Linked DNA regions of Homo sapiens: all the other regions are linked to region 2. The links come from fine-mapping of genetic effects on gene expression. A gene starts in region 2. Each other region holds a variant in brackets. All regions are shown on one strand. Distances are between the middles of the regions. Region 1 has its middle 13 kb from the start of MIR4322. Region 2 holds the start of P2RY11 (purinergic receptor P2Y11). Region 3 overlaps DNMT1 (DNA methyltransferase 1).

The links. PIP is the estimated chance that this variant, and not a neighbour inherited with it, causes the effect.
Region 1: its variant is fine-mapped to the expression of P2RY11 in fibroblasts (GTEx, PIP 0.99).
Region 3: its variant is fine-mapped to the expression of P2RY11 in whole blood (TOPMed, PIP 0.94).

The regions. Positions count from the first base shown.
Region 1 is chr19:10,215,067-10,220,285 of GRCh38, forward strand. It overlaps the pseudogene LOC103689916. Among named protein-coding and RNA genes, the nearest start is that of MIR4322, 13 kb to the right of the region's middle. RefSeq lists enhancers at 4,500-5,000, 4,641-4,690, 4,821-5,050, 5,001-5,219. The variant A/G (reference allele first, on the strand shown) is at 2,302.
Region 2 is chr19:10,109,359-10,114,577 of GRCh38, forward strand. P2RY11 (purinergic receptor P2Y11) reads left to right here and starts at 2,335. Exons shown (of 2, transcript NM_002566.5): 1 at 2,335-2,382; 2 at 4,275-5,219. The coding sequence starts at 2,364. PPAN (peter pan homolog) reads left to right here. Exons shown (of 12, transcript NM_020230.7): 6 at 273-349; 7 at 555-662; 8 at 765-888; 9 at 966-1,044; 10 at 1,127-1,256; 11 at 1,339-1,508; 12 at 1,587-2,654. The coding sequence ends at 1,807. PPAN-P2RY11 (PPAN-P2RY11 readthrough) reads left to right here. Exons shown (of 13, transcript NM_001198690.2): 6 at 273-349; 7 at 555-662; 8 at 765-888; 9 at 966-1,044; 10 at 1,127-1,256; 11 at 1,339-1,508; 12 at 1,587-1,726; 13 at 4,275-5,219. The coding sequence ends at 4,496. SNORD105B (small nucleolar RNA, C/D box 105B) reads left to right here and starts at 391; the gene lies at 391-482. RefSeq lists enhancers at 128-709, 4,085-4,154 and a silencer at 4,315-4,609.
Region 3 is chr19:10,170,781-10,175,999 of GRCh38, forward strand. DNMT1 (DNA methyltransferase 1) reads right to left here. Exons shown (of 41, transcript NM_001130823.3): 7 at 4,760-4,838; 8 at 3,091-3,125; 9 at 2,310-2,394. Among named protein-coding and RNA genes, the nearest start is that of DNMT1, 22 kb to the right of the region's middle. The variant C/T (reference allele first, on the strand shown) is at 2,875.

The sequences.
Region 1 (5,219 bases), 110 kb after region 2:
TGGAAGGACCACTTTAATTTGGGCTCCAAGATTTGAGAGCTATCAACAAATGGGATCTTCAGATCCAGATATTGAGGAGGATCAGATATGATTGTGGGCCCGGCGCAGTGGCTCATGCCTGTAATCCCAGCACTTTGGGAGGCCAAGGTGGGTGGATCATGAGGTCAGGAGTTCAAGACCAGCCTGGCTAACATGGTGAAACCCTGTCTCTACTAAAAATACAAAAAAATTAGCCAGGCATGGTGGCGGGCACCTGTCATCCCAGCTACTTGAGAGGCTGAGGCAAGGAGAATCTCTTGAACCTGGGAGGCGGAGGTTGCAGTGAGCCGAGATCGCACCATTGCACTACAGCCTGGGCGACAGTGCAAGACTCCATCTCAAAAAAATTAGCTGGGTATGATGGTGCACGCCTGTAATCCCAGCTACTTGGAAGGCTGAGGCGGGAGAAGCGCTTGAACCTGGGAGGCAGAGGTTGCAGTGAGCCAAGACTGCGCCATTGCACTCCAGCCTGGGTGACAAGAGAGAAACTCTGTCTCAAAAAAAAAAAAATTAGCTAGGCGTGGTGGTGCGTGCCTGTAATCACCGCTACTAGAGAAGCTGAGGCGGAAGAAACTCTCGAACCTGGGAGGTGGAGGTTGCAGTGAGCCGAGACTGTGCCACTGCACTCCAGCCTGGGCGATAGAGTGAGACTCTATCTCCAAAAATAAATAAATAAATAATCATTTTTTTGAGACGGGGTTTCGCTCTTCTTGCCCAGGCTGGAGTGCAATGGTGCGATCTCCGGCTTACCACAACCTCTGCCTCCTGGGTTCAGGCAATTCTCCTGCCTCAGCCTCCCGAGTAGCTGGGATTACAGGCATGTGCCACCACACCCGGCTAATTTTGTATTTTTAGTAAAGACAGGATTTCTCTATGTTGGTCAGGATGGTCTTGAACTCCCAACCTCAGGTGATCCGCCCGCCTCGGCCTCCCAAAGTGCTGGGATTACAGACGTGAGCCACCGCGCCCAGCTGAAAAACATTTTAAAAAGATATAAGTGTGGTCTTCAGTGACTCACTGGGTTCCAATCCTGGCCCCTTGACTCCCATGCTACTTGACCTTGGGTGAATTACTTAACCTCTCTGTGCCTCGGTTTCTTTATCTGTCAAAAAGCCAATAATAGCACCTACTCTATAGGATTATTGTGAGGATTCCAGAAGTTTGCAGATGTCAAATGATTCTCACAGTGCCCAGCACACGAGCACACATTAGACTTTTTATTTTTTGAGACAGGGTCTCACTCTGTTGCCCAGGCTGGAATGCAGTGGCATGACCACAGTTCATTGCAGCCTCGGTCACCTAGGCTCAAAGAATCCTCCCACCTCAGCCTCCAGAGTGGCCAGGACTATAGACACGTTCCACCACACCAGGGTATATATGTATTTATTTACTTACTTTTACAGATGAGGTCTCACTATGTTGCCCAGGCTCATCTCAAACTCCTGGCCCCAAGTGATCCTCCCGCATTGGTCTCCCAAAGGGCTGGGATTACAGGCATGAGCCACCATGCCTGGCCCTATTTTCTTTTCTTTCCTTTTTTTTTTTTTTTTTGAGACAGAGTCTTGCTCCATCACCCAGGCTGGAGTGCGGTGGCGCGATCTCGGCTCACTGCAAGCTCCGCCTCCCAGGTTCACGCCATTCTCCTGCCTCAGCCTCCCAAGTAGCTGGGATTACAGGTGCCCACCACCACGCCTGCTTAATTTTGTATTTTTAGTAGAGATGGGGTTTCACCATGCTGGCCAGGCTGGTTTCAAACTCCTGACCTCAGGTGATCCACTCGCCTCGGCATTCCAAAGTGCTGGGATTACAGGAGTGAGCTCCCACACCTGGCACTATTTTCTTTTCTTTTTTTTATTTGTTTCTGTTTTGTTTTGTTTGTTTTGGTGGTCTAAAATAAATTTTTTAATTGCACATTTGTGTCTTGGGTTATCTGTGGGGTGAGAAACCTATTCCTCACTTCCAATCCCAGCTATCCAGGTACAATCTGGTGTTGTGGTCTGGCTGTGGGCAAGGGGTACAGGTGGGTGCAGAGCTGGCCCTCGAGTCTGCACCAACGTCTTCAAGGCAGGGAGCTCAGACCATGGTTGTACTTGCACTGCTTTGGGGCCTCATTGAAGCCCTCACACAGGGACAGGTCATTCTCAGTGGTCGAACAGTCCAGGAACTGCCTGATCTTGTAGGTGCAGAGCCCCATCTGTAGGGGCTGGGAGGCAGCACCGGTGGGGGTCTGACTGGCCAGTCGGCCACACTGTGGCTTCCCCA[A/G]GGCCTGGTGGCTGTGGTGAGACCTTATTATATTAGATATTAGATATTATTATATTAGATATTAGAGACGGCAATGGCGGCAGCAGTTCTGTCGCAGGGACAAATGCCGCCCCCCCTTTTTTTTTTTTTTGAGATGCAGTTTCGCTCCTGTTGCCCAGGCTGGAGTGCAAAGGCGCGATCTTGGCTCACTGCAACCTCTGCCTCCCGGGTTCAAGCAATTCTCCAGCCTCAGCCTCCCCGGTAGCTATGATTACAGGCGCTCGCCACCACGCCCAGCTAATTTTTTTTTTTGAGACAGAGTCTCACTCTGTTGCCCAGGCTGGAGTGCAGTGGCGCAATCTCGGCTCACTGCAACCTCCATCCCCCGGGTTCAAGAATTCTCCTGCCTCAGCCTCCCTAGTAGCTGCGACTACAGGTGCGTGCCACCACGCCCAGCTAGCTTTTGTATTTTTAGTAGAGACAGGGTTTCACCATGTTGGCCAGGCTGGTCTTGAACTCCTGACTTCATGATCCACCCGTCTTGGCCTCCCAAAGTGCTGGGATTGCAGGCATGATCCCAGGTGTAATCCCAAAATTAGGCACATGGCCTAATTTTGTATTTTTAGTAGAGATAGGGTTTCACCATGCTGGCCAGGCTGGTTTCAAACTCTTGACCTTGGCTGGGCACAGTGGCTCACGCCTGTAATCCCAGCACTTTGGGAGGCCTAGGCAAGCAGATCACTTGAGGCCAGGAGTTCGACACCAGCCTGACCAACATGATGAAACCCCCGTCTCTACTATAAATACAAAAATTAGCCAGGCTTGGTGGCACATGCCTGTAATGCCAGCTACTCGGGAGGCTGAGGCAGGAGAATCACTTGAACTCAGGAGGTGGAGGTTGTAGTGAGTCGAGATCACATCATTGCACTCCAGCCTGGGCATCAGAATAAGACTCCGTCTCAAAAACAAAACAAAACAAAACAAAAAAACTCCTGACCTCAGGTGATCTGCCCACCTCGGCCTCCCAAAGTGGTGGGATTACAGGCATGAGCCACCGTGCCCGGCCCTATTTTATTTTCTTCCTAGCACTTAACACTCACTGAAATGACCATCATTTGCTTTTGTTTTATTTATTCAACAAGTATTTACTGAGGACCTACTGTGTGTAGGCATTCCAGGCAGAGGGAACAGCAGGTGCAAAGGCCCTGGGGTGGGAACATGCCAAGTAGTGTTTAAGATGTTAGAGATAGCCAGGCATGGTGGCTCATGCCTGTAATCCCAGCACTTTGGGAGGCTGAGGTGGGAGGAGCACTGAGCCCAGGAGTTTGAGAGCAGCCTGGGCAACATGGTGAAACCCTGTCTCTACAAACAATACAAAAAAGCAGGCCAGTGTGTTGGCACATACCTGTAGTTCCACCTACTTGGGAGATTGAGGTGGGAGGATGGCTTGAGCCCAGGAGGTCAAGGCTGCGGTGAGCTGTGATTACGTCACTGCACTCCAGCCTGGGTGACAGAGTCAGACCCTGTATCAAAAAAAAAAAAAAAGTTAGAGAGCCATAAATAGCCAGGCAAGTTGGCTCACACCTGTAATCTCAGCACTTTGGGAGGTTGAGGCAGGCAGATCTCTTAAGCCTAGGAGTTCAAGACCAGCCTGGGCAACATGGAAGAATCATGTCTCTACAAAAAAAGAAAATTAGCAGGCTTATAATCCCAGTTACTAGGAAGCCTGAGGTGGAAGTATCACCTGAGCCCATGAGCCCAGGAGGTTGAGGCTGTAGTGAGCTGTGATTGCACCACTGCACTTGAGCCTGGGTAACAGAGTAAGACCTTGTCTCAAAAAAAAACAAAAAAACAACACTGGAGATACATTAGTAAATAAGGCAGGTGCAGTCCTATATTCACAGTGCTTGTATTTTAATGGGGGTAGAGACAGATAAATTGATACATATTAGGTTGGTGCTAAAATCATTGCGGTTTTTGCCATTAAAAGTCATTGTAGGCTGGGCACGGTAGCTCACGCCTGTAATCCCAGCACTTTGGGGGGCCGAGGTGGGTGGATCACAAGGTCAGGAGATTGAGACCATCCTGGCTAACACGGTGAAACCCTGTCTCTACTAAAAAAAAAAAATACAAAAAATTAGCCTGGTATGGTGGCGGGCACTAGTAGTCCCAGCTACTCAGGAGGCTGAGGCAGGAGAATGGCGTGAACCCAGGAGGCGGAGTTTGCAGTGAGCCGAGATCGGGCCATACACTCTAGCCTGGGTGACAGAGCGAGACTCCATCTCAAAAAAAAAAAAAAGTCATTGCGGTTTTTGCCATTAAAAGAAATAGCAAAAGTCATTGCAATTTTTGCTATTAAAGGTAATGGCAAAAACCGCAATGACTTTTGCACCAACTTAATAATATATACTGCCAGGTAATAAGCAAGTGACTCCTTTCTGAGGAGGTGGCATTTGAGCAGAGTCCTGAAGGGGGAGATAGAGAACCCTGTGGGTACTTGGGGAAAATCTATTGACTCCAGCCTGGCCTGTGCCTTTTTCCCCCACCCCACCCCCCATCCCATCTAGGGTTCAGGTTTCCAAACAGAGGTTGTTGTCTCAACTGCTAGAGAAGGGGAATTCCGATGGGGGTTGCAGGCCCTCAGCCTCTGCGGTCTGCCTTCTCTCCCACTGGCTGTCCTAGTCTTTGAGCTGGTGTTGCTGTGTGGGGCTCCAGCTTGGGTGCCTAGGGTCCCCCATCAAAGGGTTCATGCCTGAAATCCCAGCACTTTGGGAGGCCAAGGTGGAGGCAGGAGGATCGCTTGAGCCCAGGAGTTCGAGACCAGCCTGGGCAACATAGGGAGACCCCCCATCTCTACAAAAAAAAAAAAAAAAAAAATTAGCCAGGCATGGTGGTGCATGTCTGTGGTCCCAGCTACTTGGGAGGCTGAAGTGAACCAT
Region 2 (5,219 bases):
ACAGGCGTGCACCACCACATCCAACTCATTTTTCCATCTACTTTTTGTAGACATGGAGACTCGCCGTGTTGCCCAGGCTGGTTTTGAACTCCTGGGCTCAGGCAGTCCCACCACTTCAGCCTCTGGAGTAGCTAAAACTGCAGGTGCGAGCTGGAAGCAGCATTTCTAGCCAGTGCCACAGTCCACGAACAGTGTGTGTATCCCCCAAAGCCCCCACTTCCCCAAACTTTGCCATGAGTCTACTGGACTATGCTCTCTTCCTCCCCTTCCAGGTGAACCTGAACACCATCAAGCGCTGCCTCCTCATCGACTACAACCCCGACTCCCAGGAGCTGGACTTCCGCCACTAGTGAGTGTCCCAGCAGGATGGGAGACGAGGGGGTGCCGGGTGGGGGCCTCCACATGCGGCTGATGACAGCACTTCTGCTGAGACGCTGTGATTGCTCTGTCCAAAGTAAACGCCCTGACGCACTGTGGGAAGGGTGAGATGGGCACCGCCAGCCCCATCACGTGCCCCCTGACCACCCCCTTGCCGTCCACTCATGTTCCTGCAGTAGCATCAAAGTTGTTCCTGTGGGCGCGAGTCGCGGGATGAAGAAGCTGCTCCAGGAGAAGTTCCCCAACATGAGCCGCCTGCAGGACATCAGCGAGCTGCTGGCCACGTGAGGAGGGCATAGGGCGGGAGGCCACTGCGGCCCGGGGACCCCAGAACAGGACCGGGAGCCTGAGCTCCCCCACTGAGCCCTGTTATGTCCTACACACAGGGGCGCGGGGCTGTCGGAGAGCGAGGCAGAGCCTGACGGCGACCACAACATCACAGAGCTGCCTCAGGCTGTCGCTGGCCGTGGCAACATGCGGGCCCAGCAGAGTGCAGTGCGGCTCACCGAGGTGAGGCCCAGGGCAGGGGGACCCCCGGGCTCCACCAGTCCCAACGGTGGGCTGACGCTTCTTCCTCGTCCCCTCAGATCGGCCCGCGGATGACACTGCAGCTCATCAAGGTCCAGGAGGGCGTCGGGGAGGGCAAAGTGATGTTCCACAGTTTTGGTGAGGCCGGGGCCGCCGGGGGTGGGGGGTCATGGGTGTGGAGCTGCACCCGGATCTTGGTGACCCGCGTCTCTTGGCTCAGTGAGCAAGACGGAGGAGGAGCTGCAGGCCATCCTGGAAGCCAAGGAGAAGAAGCTGCGGCTGAAGGCGCAGAGGCAGGCCCAGCAGGCCCAGAATGTGCAGCGCAAGCAGGAGCAGCGGGAGGCCCACAGGTCCAGGCAGAGCTGGGAAGGGCAGGGCCAAGGGGGGGTCCCTGGGATGGGCGGCTATGTTGACCCCCACGCCCTCCTCCAGAAAGAAGAGCCTGGAGGGCATGAAGAAGGCACGGGTCGGGGGTAGTGATGAAGAGGCCTCTGGGATCCCTTCAAGGACGGCGAGCCTGGAGTTGGGTGAGGACGATGATGAACAGGAAGATGATGACATCGAGTATTTCTGCCAGGCGGTGGGCGAGGCGCCCAGTGAGGGTATGGAGTGGGGTCTGCAGCAGGGCACCCAGAGCCTGTCCTTGTCTCTGGGGGCCCTGACACTGTCTCTCCCCACAGACCTGTTCCCCGAGGCCAAGCAGAAACGGCTTGCCAAGTCTCCAGGGCGGAAGCGGAAGCGGTGGGAAATGGATCGAGGCAGGGGTCGCCTTTGTGACCAGAAGTTTCCCAAGACCAAGGACAAGTCCCAGGGAGCCCAGGCCAGGCGGGGGCCCAGAGGGGCTTCCCGGGATGGTGGGCGAGGCCGGGGCCGGGGCCGCCCAGGGAAGAGAGTGGCCTGAGCCCAAGCCGCACCGGAGCAGCGGCTGGATTGAACGCCCCAGATTGGGGCCCGAGATGTGGCCCTCGGTTTCCTTTCATAAAGGAGTTGTGTCCCCAGCCCTTCCACTCCAGTAAAGAACTGAATTGGCCAGGGGTCCACGTCAGCGTTTGGGATGGGGGATTCTGGAGCCATACAAAGCAACCCAGAGAGTCCTGGGCCGGCCACACCCGAGAGTCCCTCCCACCTGGTTTCTTCCTGGAAGCTGGGTCTCTCCCCTACCCTGCACGGGGTTGGTTTCATTGGTGGCAGCAGCAGCCATGAGTGGCCCCTCCCCCCAGTCCCACCAAAGAGCCGTGCAAGCAGACAGGTCACACTTTCAGCAGATGAGCTTGAACCTCAGGAGGGTTGTGGCACAATGAGGAAGGAAACGTGGGTGGAAAGGCACGCTGGCCTGCTCTGCTGGCTGGGCCAGTAACTGGGGATGGGGCTGGGGCAGGGCCCACTAAGCCACTGGTGACTGGGGGAGGGGCTGGGGAACTGGGTAGCAGACACAGGCTGAGGATCGGCACGGGAGCATGGCAGCCAACGTCTCGGGTAAGGAGAAGGCATGTTGGCTGTCTCTGGGGGTCTGCAGATTGTCAGGAGGTGGGGGTAGTGGGTATTGGTAAAACACCTAGGTCTGGGGCTGGGCACGGTGGCTCACGCCTGTAATCCCAGCACTTTGGGAGGTCGAGGGGGGTGGAACACGAGGTCAGGGGTTCGAGACCACCCTGACCAACAAGGAGAAACCCCGTCTCTACTAAAAATAAAAAAATTAGCTGGGCCTGGTGGCACATGCCTGTAATCCCAGCTACTCGGGAGGCTGAGACAAGAGAATCACTTAAACCCGGGAGGCGGAGGTTGCCATGAGCCGAGATTGCACCATTGCACTCCAGCTTGGGCAATGAGCGAAACTCCATCTCAAAAAAAAAAAGCCTAGGTCAAGGCTGGGTGTGGTGATGCGAGCCTGTGATTCCAGCTACTCGGGAGGCTGAGGCAGGGGGATCACTTGACCCCAGGAGGTCGAGACTGCACTGAGCTGTGATTGCACCACTGCACCTCAGCCTCGGTGACAGTGAAATCCTGTCTCCAAAAAAAAGCCACGTCTAGACGACACTTCCTCCTTAAGCAGGCTGGCGTTGGGAGCAGGGAGGCGCCTCCGGAGAAGCCTGTCCCCAGCCTGCAGAGGCAGGGGTGGGGTGCACAAGGAGTGAGTGCCCCTGTGCTGCTGTGCCCTGGGCACTGTGGTGAGCACTGGCACCAGTAATGGGTAAGCAGGCCCCCCCATCCTCCCGAAGGAGGGAGATTTTTCTCACCGTCATCAGGTGGCGCAGGGTATGGGGGAAAATAACGCAGGGAAGGGAGAGTGGAGGCACGAGGGCTGCTGTCAACAGTGGTTAGGGTGGCCTTGGGGCCTCTCGCAGGCAGGACCACGGACGTGGGAAGAGGAGCCTCAAGAATGTCTGGGTGTGGCTGGGCACGGTGGCTCACACTTGTAATCTCAGCACTTTGGGAGGCTGAGGCGGGCAGATCTGAGGTCAGGAATTCGAGACCTCTTGGCCAACATGGGGAAACCCCATCTCTACTAAAAATGCAAAATTTAAAATTAAACCAGGCGTGGTGGTGGGTGCCTGTAGTCCCAAATACTCAGGAAGCTGAGGCAGGAGAATCACTTGAACCCGGGAGGCAGAGGTTGCAGTGAGCTGAAGTCACATCATTGCACTCCAGCCTGGGTGATGAGAGTGAGACTCTGTCTCAAAAAAAAAAGTCTGGGTGCGAAGGTACCAAGGCACAAGTCTGCAAGAGCAGCCAGGAAGCCTGGGTGGGCTGGTGCGAGGGAGTGAGTCGCGGAGCACAGAGGGTGGCACTGGGGGGTATGGCGGGCGGGAGCGCTCTTGGGGGACCTTGTGGGGTGAGTCTGGCTTTTTGGCGGCAACTCCCTGGCCAAGTGTGAGCACCTGGAAGCAAAAGGATGGGGCAGGACTCCAGCGCTCGCGGGTGCTCTCTGGTGGCCACGGGGAGAAGAGGCTTTGGGCGGCGGCGGGTGCCAAGGTCAGGGCAGAGTGGGGGCTGGACCCCCACGGGGCTTTGGACGGCACAGATCTGAAGTGGAGCCGGCAGGCCTTGCTGGGGCTGGACTTTGGGGAGGAGGCCTCTAGTGGGGCCAGGTGTGGTGGGGGAGTAGGGTGGCCGCTGTCTGTGTTACCAGTGGACCTTGAGCTCCAAGACTGCCTGGCCCGCCTAAGCTGGTCCATTGGGGCCCAATGCATAACCCTGGCTCTGAGCCTCAATCCTGTCCACATAAAGGAGTGGAGCCCGGTCCCCCTCCAGGGAGGGGAAAGAACTCGTGTCCAGGGATCCACGCCATGGCAGACGTGGGCTCTTGGGGTAGCAGGAGCCGCCTTATGGGGGAATAGGGCTCAGCTGGTGACACCTTCTGCCCACAGGTGCCAAGTCCTGCCCTGCCAACTTCTTGGCAGCTGCCGACGACAAACTCAGTGGGTTCCAGGGGGACTTCCTGTGGCCCATACTGGTGGTTGAGTTCCTGGTGGCCGTGGCCAGCAATGGCCTGGCCCTGTACCGCTTCAGCATCCGGAAGCAGCGCCCATGGCACCCCGCCGTGGTCTTCTCTGTCCAGCTGGCAGTCAGCGACCTGCTCTGCGCCCTGACGCTGCCCCCGCTGGCCGCCTACCTCTATCCCCCCAAGCACTGGCGCTATGGGGAGGCCGCGTGCCGCCTGGAGCGCTTCCTCTTCACCTGCAACCTGCTGGGCAGCGTCATCTTCATCACCTGCATCAGCCTCAACCGCTACCTGGGCATCGTGCACCCCTTCTTCGCCCGAAGCCACCTGCGACCCAAGCACGCCTGGGCCGTGAGCGCTGCCGGCTGGGTCCTGGCCGCCCTGCTGGCCATGCCCACACTCAGCTTCTCCCACCTGAAGAGGCCGCAGCAGGGGGCGGGCAACTGCAGCGTGGCCAGGCCCGAGGCCTGCATCAAGTGTCTGGGGACAGCAGACCACGGGCTGGCGGCCTACAGAGCGTATAGCCTGGTGCTGGCGGGGTTGGGCTGCGGCCTGCCGCTGCTGCTCACGCTGGCAGCCTACGGCGCCCTCGGGCGGGCCGTGCTACGCAGCCCAGGCATGACTGTGGCCGAGAAGCTGCGTGTGGCAGCGTTGGTGGCCAGTGGTGTGGCCCTCTACGCCAGCTCCTATGTGCCCTACCACATCATGCGGGTGCTCAACGTGGATGCTCGGCGGCGCTGGAGCACCCGCTGCCCGAGCTTTGCAGACATAGCCCAGGCCACAGCAGCCCTGGAGCTGGGGCCCTACGTGGGCTACCAGGTGATGCGGGGCCTCATGCCCCTGGCCTTCTGTGTCCACCCTCTACTCTACA
Region 3 (5,219 bases), 61 kb after region 2:
TTGTTTGTTTTGTTTGTTTGTTTGTTTGTTTTAAGACCAGTCTCACTTTATCATCCAGGCTGGATTGCAGTGGGACAATCATGGCTCACTGTATCCTCAGCCTCCTGAGCTCAAGTGATCTTCCTGCCTCAGCCTCCTGAGAAGCTGGAACTACAGGCACACTGCCTGTTGTAAGCTCCACCACATCCAGCTGATTTTTGTATTTTTTGCAGAGACGGGGTCTCACTACATTGCCCAGGCTGGCCCTGAACTCCTGAGCTCAAGCGATCCACCCACCTCGGCCTCCCAAAATGCTAGAATTACAGGCATGAGCCACCACACCCGGCCCTCAGTCATCTTATTAAAAAACAAAACAAACAGAAAAAAAAACAGGACCCAGCATCTGTATTGCATAGAACCTTAGACTCAGATTTTACAAAGAAGATGAGGGACTGGGGAAAGAGCTGGTCTGACTTCAGAGAGGAGAATACAACTTTATGTCTGGATGATGCTAAAGAATTTTAGCACCTCCTACATCTGAAAATTAGATCTTCACCAAGATCTCGTCAGCCAGAGAAGGTGGCTGAGGTGACAGACTGAAACTGACTAGTTGATTTAAGTAGCATAGGTTGGCCGGTGTGGTGGCTCGTGCCTGTAATCCCAGCACTTTGATGGCTGAGGCAGGTGGACCGTTCGAGGTCAGCAGTTTGAGACCAGCCTGGCCAACATGGTGAAACCCCGTCTCTACTAAAAACACAAAAATTGGCTAGGCGCGGTGGTTCACGCCTGTAATCCCAGCACTTTGGGAGGCCGAGATGGGAGGATCACGAGGTCAGGAGATCAAGACCATCCTGGCTAACGTGGTGAAACCCCTTCTCTACTAAAAATACAAAAAATTAGCCGGGCATGGTGGCAGGCGCCTGTGGTCCCAGCTACTCGGGAGGCTGAGGCAGGAGAATGGTGTGAACCCAGGAGGTGGAGCTTGCAGTGAGCGGAGATCAAGCCACTGCACTTCAGCCTGGGCGACAGAGCGAGACTCCGTCTCAAATAAATAAATAAATAAATAAATAAATAAATAAATAAATAAAAACACAAAAATTAGCCAGGTGTGGTGGCAGGCGCCTGTAGCCCCAGCTAGTTGGGAGGCTGGGACATGAGAATTACTTGAACCTGGGAGGCGGAGGTTGCAATGAGCCAAGATCGCACCTCTGCACTCCAGCCTGGGTGATAGAGCGGGAGACTGTCTCAAAAAAAAAAAATTAAATTAAATTAAATAAATACCACAAATAAGTAGCAAAGATCCTCGCTATGACAACCTCATAACCCACCTTCCATGTAGAGAACTACAAAAAAATAAGTTTGAAAAGTATTTTAGGCCGGGTGTGGTGGCTCACGCCTATAATCCCAGCACTTTGGGAGGCCAAGGCAGGTGGATCACCTGAGATTGGGAGTTCAAGACCAGCCTGATCAACATGGAGAAACCCCATCTTTACTAAAAATACAAAATTATCTGGCTGTGGTGGCAGGCACCTGTAATCCCAGCTACTCAGGAGGCTGAGGCACAAGAACCCGGGAGGCAGAGGTTGCGGTGAGACAAGATCACACCACTGCATTCCAGCCTGGGCAACAGAGCAAGACTCCATCTCAAAAAAAAAAAAAAAAAAAGTTTTAGCACCTCGTACGTCTGAAAATTAGATCTTCACAAAGATCTCATCAGCCAGAGAAGCAAGAAGGCGAGGTGACAAACTGAAGCTCTGTGACTAGTTGATTAAGTGGCATAGGTTGGCCGGTGTGGTGGCTCATGCCTGTAATCCTAGCACTTTGGTGGCTGAGGCAGGTGGATCACTCGAGGTCAGGAGTTCAAGATCAGCCTGGCCAACACAGTGAAACCCCATCTCCACTAAAATTAGCCGAGTATGGCGGCGGGCGCCTGTAGTCCCAGTGACTCAAGAGGCTGGGACATGAGAATCACTTGAACCTGGGAGGCAGAGGTTGCAACGAGCCGAGATCGCACCTCTGTACTCATTCCAGCCTGGGTGACAGAGTGGGAGACTGTCTCAAAAATAAATAAATAAATAAAATAAAATAAAATATCACAAATAAGTAGCAAGGGTCCTCACTATCACAATCTCATAACCCACCTTTCATGTAGAGACCACGAGAAAACAAGTTTGAAAGGTGTTTAGCCAAAGTCAAAGGCATTTCGATCACTAGCAAAACCCATCTTGTTCTTCCACGTTCCCCACCCCCTGTCCCCACGTCCTGGAAGGAAATTGGGACCATATAGGATTAAGGGAGAATTAACAAACTTAGAGGTGATAGAGCTTTACTTTTTCATCTCTTTCTTCTTCCTTTTCAGTGCGCGTTCCTGATTTTGCTCTTTCAGGTTCTTCTGCAGGAAGCGGTCTAGCAACTCTGTCAAGCAAAATAACACAGACCCCAAGTGTGAGTGCCAGGAGCTTCCCCAAAGAAGCAGTTTTCATAAAGCTCCTCTTTCCCCCAAAAGCAATCTTCATTATCTCAGGAGCCCTGACAGACACATACTCATTTAACATTTAGTATTTGATATGACTTTTACACCTGGTTCGAATGCCAGCTGCCCTCGATTCATTCCTTCCAAGAAAACAGGAGAATTCTACTTGAATCTAAACGCTAATGATCTGACCCCAAATTCAGATACTTCATAACGATATGGTTGCCATGGAAACACACGATAAAGTTCTTCTTTTTAAACTTTTTTTTTTTTTTTTGAGATGGAGTCTTGCTCTGTCACTCAGGCTGGAGTGCAGTGGAATGATCTCAGATCACTGCAGCCTCTACCTCCTGGGTTCAAGCAATCCTTCTGACTCAGCCTCCTGAGTAGCTGGGATTAAAGGCACATTCCACCACGCCCAG[C/T]TAAGTTTTGAATTTTTAGTAGAGACGGGGTTTCGCCATGTTGGTCAGGCTGGTCTTGAACTCCTGACCTCAAGTGATTCGCCCATCTTGGCCTCCCAAAGTGCTGAGATTACAGGCATGAGTCACCGTGCCCGGCCTTAAACTTTCTGAAAAAGTTTTGTGATCAAGATTACACAACTCGTAGAACAAAAAGAAAGGTATAGTAACTATTCTTACCGTTCTCTGGATGTAACTCTACGTCTCTTCTCATCCTGTGTGGAGGGAAGGAAGAACAAAAAAGATTAGAATACTGGTTTCAAGGGAAGGTCAACACCAAAAGTGTGAGTTGAAATATTAACACATTTGACATGGTTAGAGCAAGAGTGGGAAAAGAAGGGGCCTGGGTTTTGGGGAGAAGATCTGAGAAACTCTTACTCTGGTATTAATCCCCACCAACCCCAAAACAAAAGCAGGTCCGAGAAGTAGGCAGGCACACTGCCCATCACTAGAGATCGCCTGGTGATACTATGTAAAAGAATCAAAGATTCTCCATCTTGTGTCAGGAATTTGTTTAATTTATTTGTTAGAGACCAGTCTGGGCAACATGGGAAACCTCATCTCTACAAAAAATACAAAACTTAGCTCATTGGCATGCGCCTGTAGTCCCAGCTGCTTGGGAGGGTGAGGTGGGAGGATCGCTTAAGCCCAGGAGGTTGAGGCTGCAGTGAGCCATGACTGCGCCACTGCACCCCAGCCTGGTGACAGAATGAGACCTGTCTCAAAGAAAAGAAAAGAAAAGAAAAAAGACAGAACTGTAATCCCAACACTTTGGGAGGCTGAAGCGGGTGGATCACTTGAGGTCAGGAGTTCAAGACCAGCCTGGCCAACACAGTGAAATCCCATCTCTACTAAAAATATAAAAATTAGCTGGGTATGATGGCACATGCCTTGTAGTCTCAGCTACTCAGGAAGCTGAGGATGGAGAGTCACTTGAACCCAGGAGGCGGAGGTTGCAGTGAGCTGAGATCGTGCCACTGCACTCCATCCTGAGTGAAAGAGTGAGACTCCATCTAAAAAAAATTAAAAACAACAACAACAACAACAAAAAAAACAAATTGGCTGGGCACGGTGGCTCACACCTATAATCCTGGCACTTTGGGAGGCTGAGGCGGGCAGATTGCCTAAGCTCAAGGAGTTCGAGACCAGCCTGGGCAACATGGGAGACCAGCCTGGGCAACATGGTGAAACCCCATCCCTACTAAAATACAAAAATTAGCCGGGCGTGGTGGCACGCGCCTGTAGTCCCAGCTACTCGGGAGGCTGAAGCAGGAGAATCACTTGAACCCGGGAGGCTGAGGTTGCAATGAACCAAGATTGTGCCACAAGAGCAAAACCCTGTCTCAAAAAAAAAAAAAAGTCTCAAAAAAAGAAGTCTAAATACATACATACATACACACACACACACACACACACACACACACACACACACACACACATATATATAACATGTATGTATGTAAGACTGCCTTGCCACTTGAGCTATGACATCATTTCTCCCCTGGACCTCCAGCCTGCCCTGCAGATTTCAAATTTGCTGGCTTTCACAATCTTGTGAGCCAATTTCTCAAAATAAAGTCTCTCCCCATAAATATATATTCCAACTATGTACCCATAAAAACAAGAAAAAAATCAAACGAATTATATATATATACATACACGTGCATATGTATATATGTACCTATAGCTGTATACACACATATACATTCTATTGGTCCTGTCTCTCTGGAGAGCCCTAAATAGAGCCCTAGACAGGGTTTTTATTTACTTGGACAGAACACATATGAAGTCACAATCATCAAATACACCAAGTTAAGGTAGAGTCAGGAAATGAAAGCACTGGCCCTACCTGGTCTTTGTCTTCTTCCTTGATGGACTCATCCGATTTGGCTCTTTCAGACTCTTCCTGAGGTTTCCGTTTGGCAGGGCTGTCACACACAGTGAGGCCAACCATTAGTGGAACAAGACCCTAGGCCTCCAGCTGGCCTGAAGTGGACCCTCATTCACCAGGATGTTGAAAGAGGCTTCAAGTTTAATGTTTCTCTGAATGACGGGTTTAGAATGTTGTCTTGCCATCTTGTAAGTCCTAAGAAATCACGGGTCTAAACACCGATCAACAGCTGCTAGTGTCAGAGAAGAGACCTCACACACCTTTCTGATGGAGGGACACAGCACCATCCATAAAGTCAGCCTCAGACCAGGTGCAGTGGCTCACGCCTATAATCCCAGCACTTTGGGAGTCCAAGGCATGAGGATCACCTGAGTTCAGGAGTTTCAGACCAGCCTGGCCAACGTGGTAAAACCCTGTC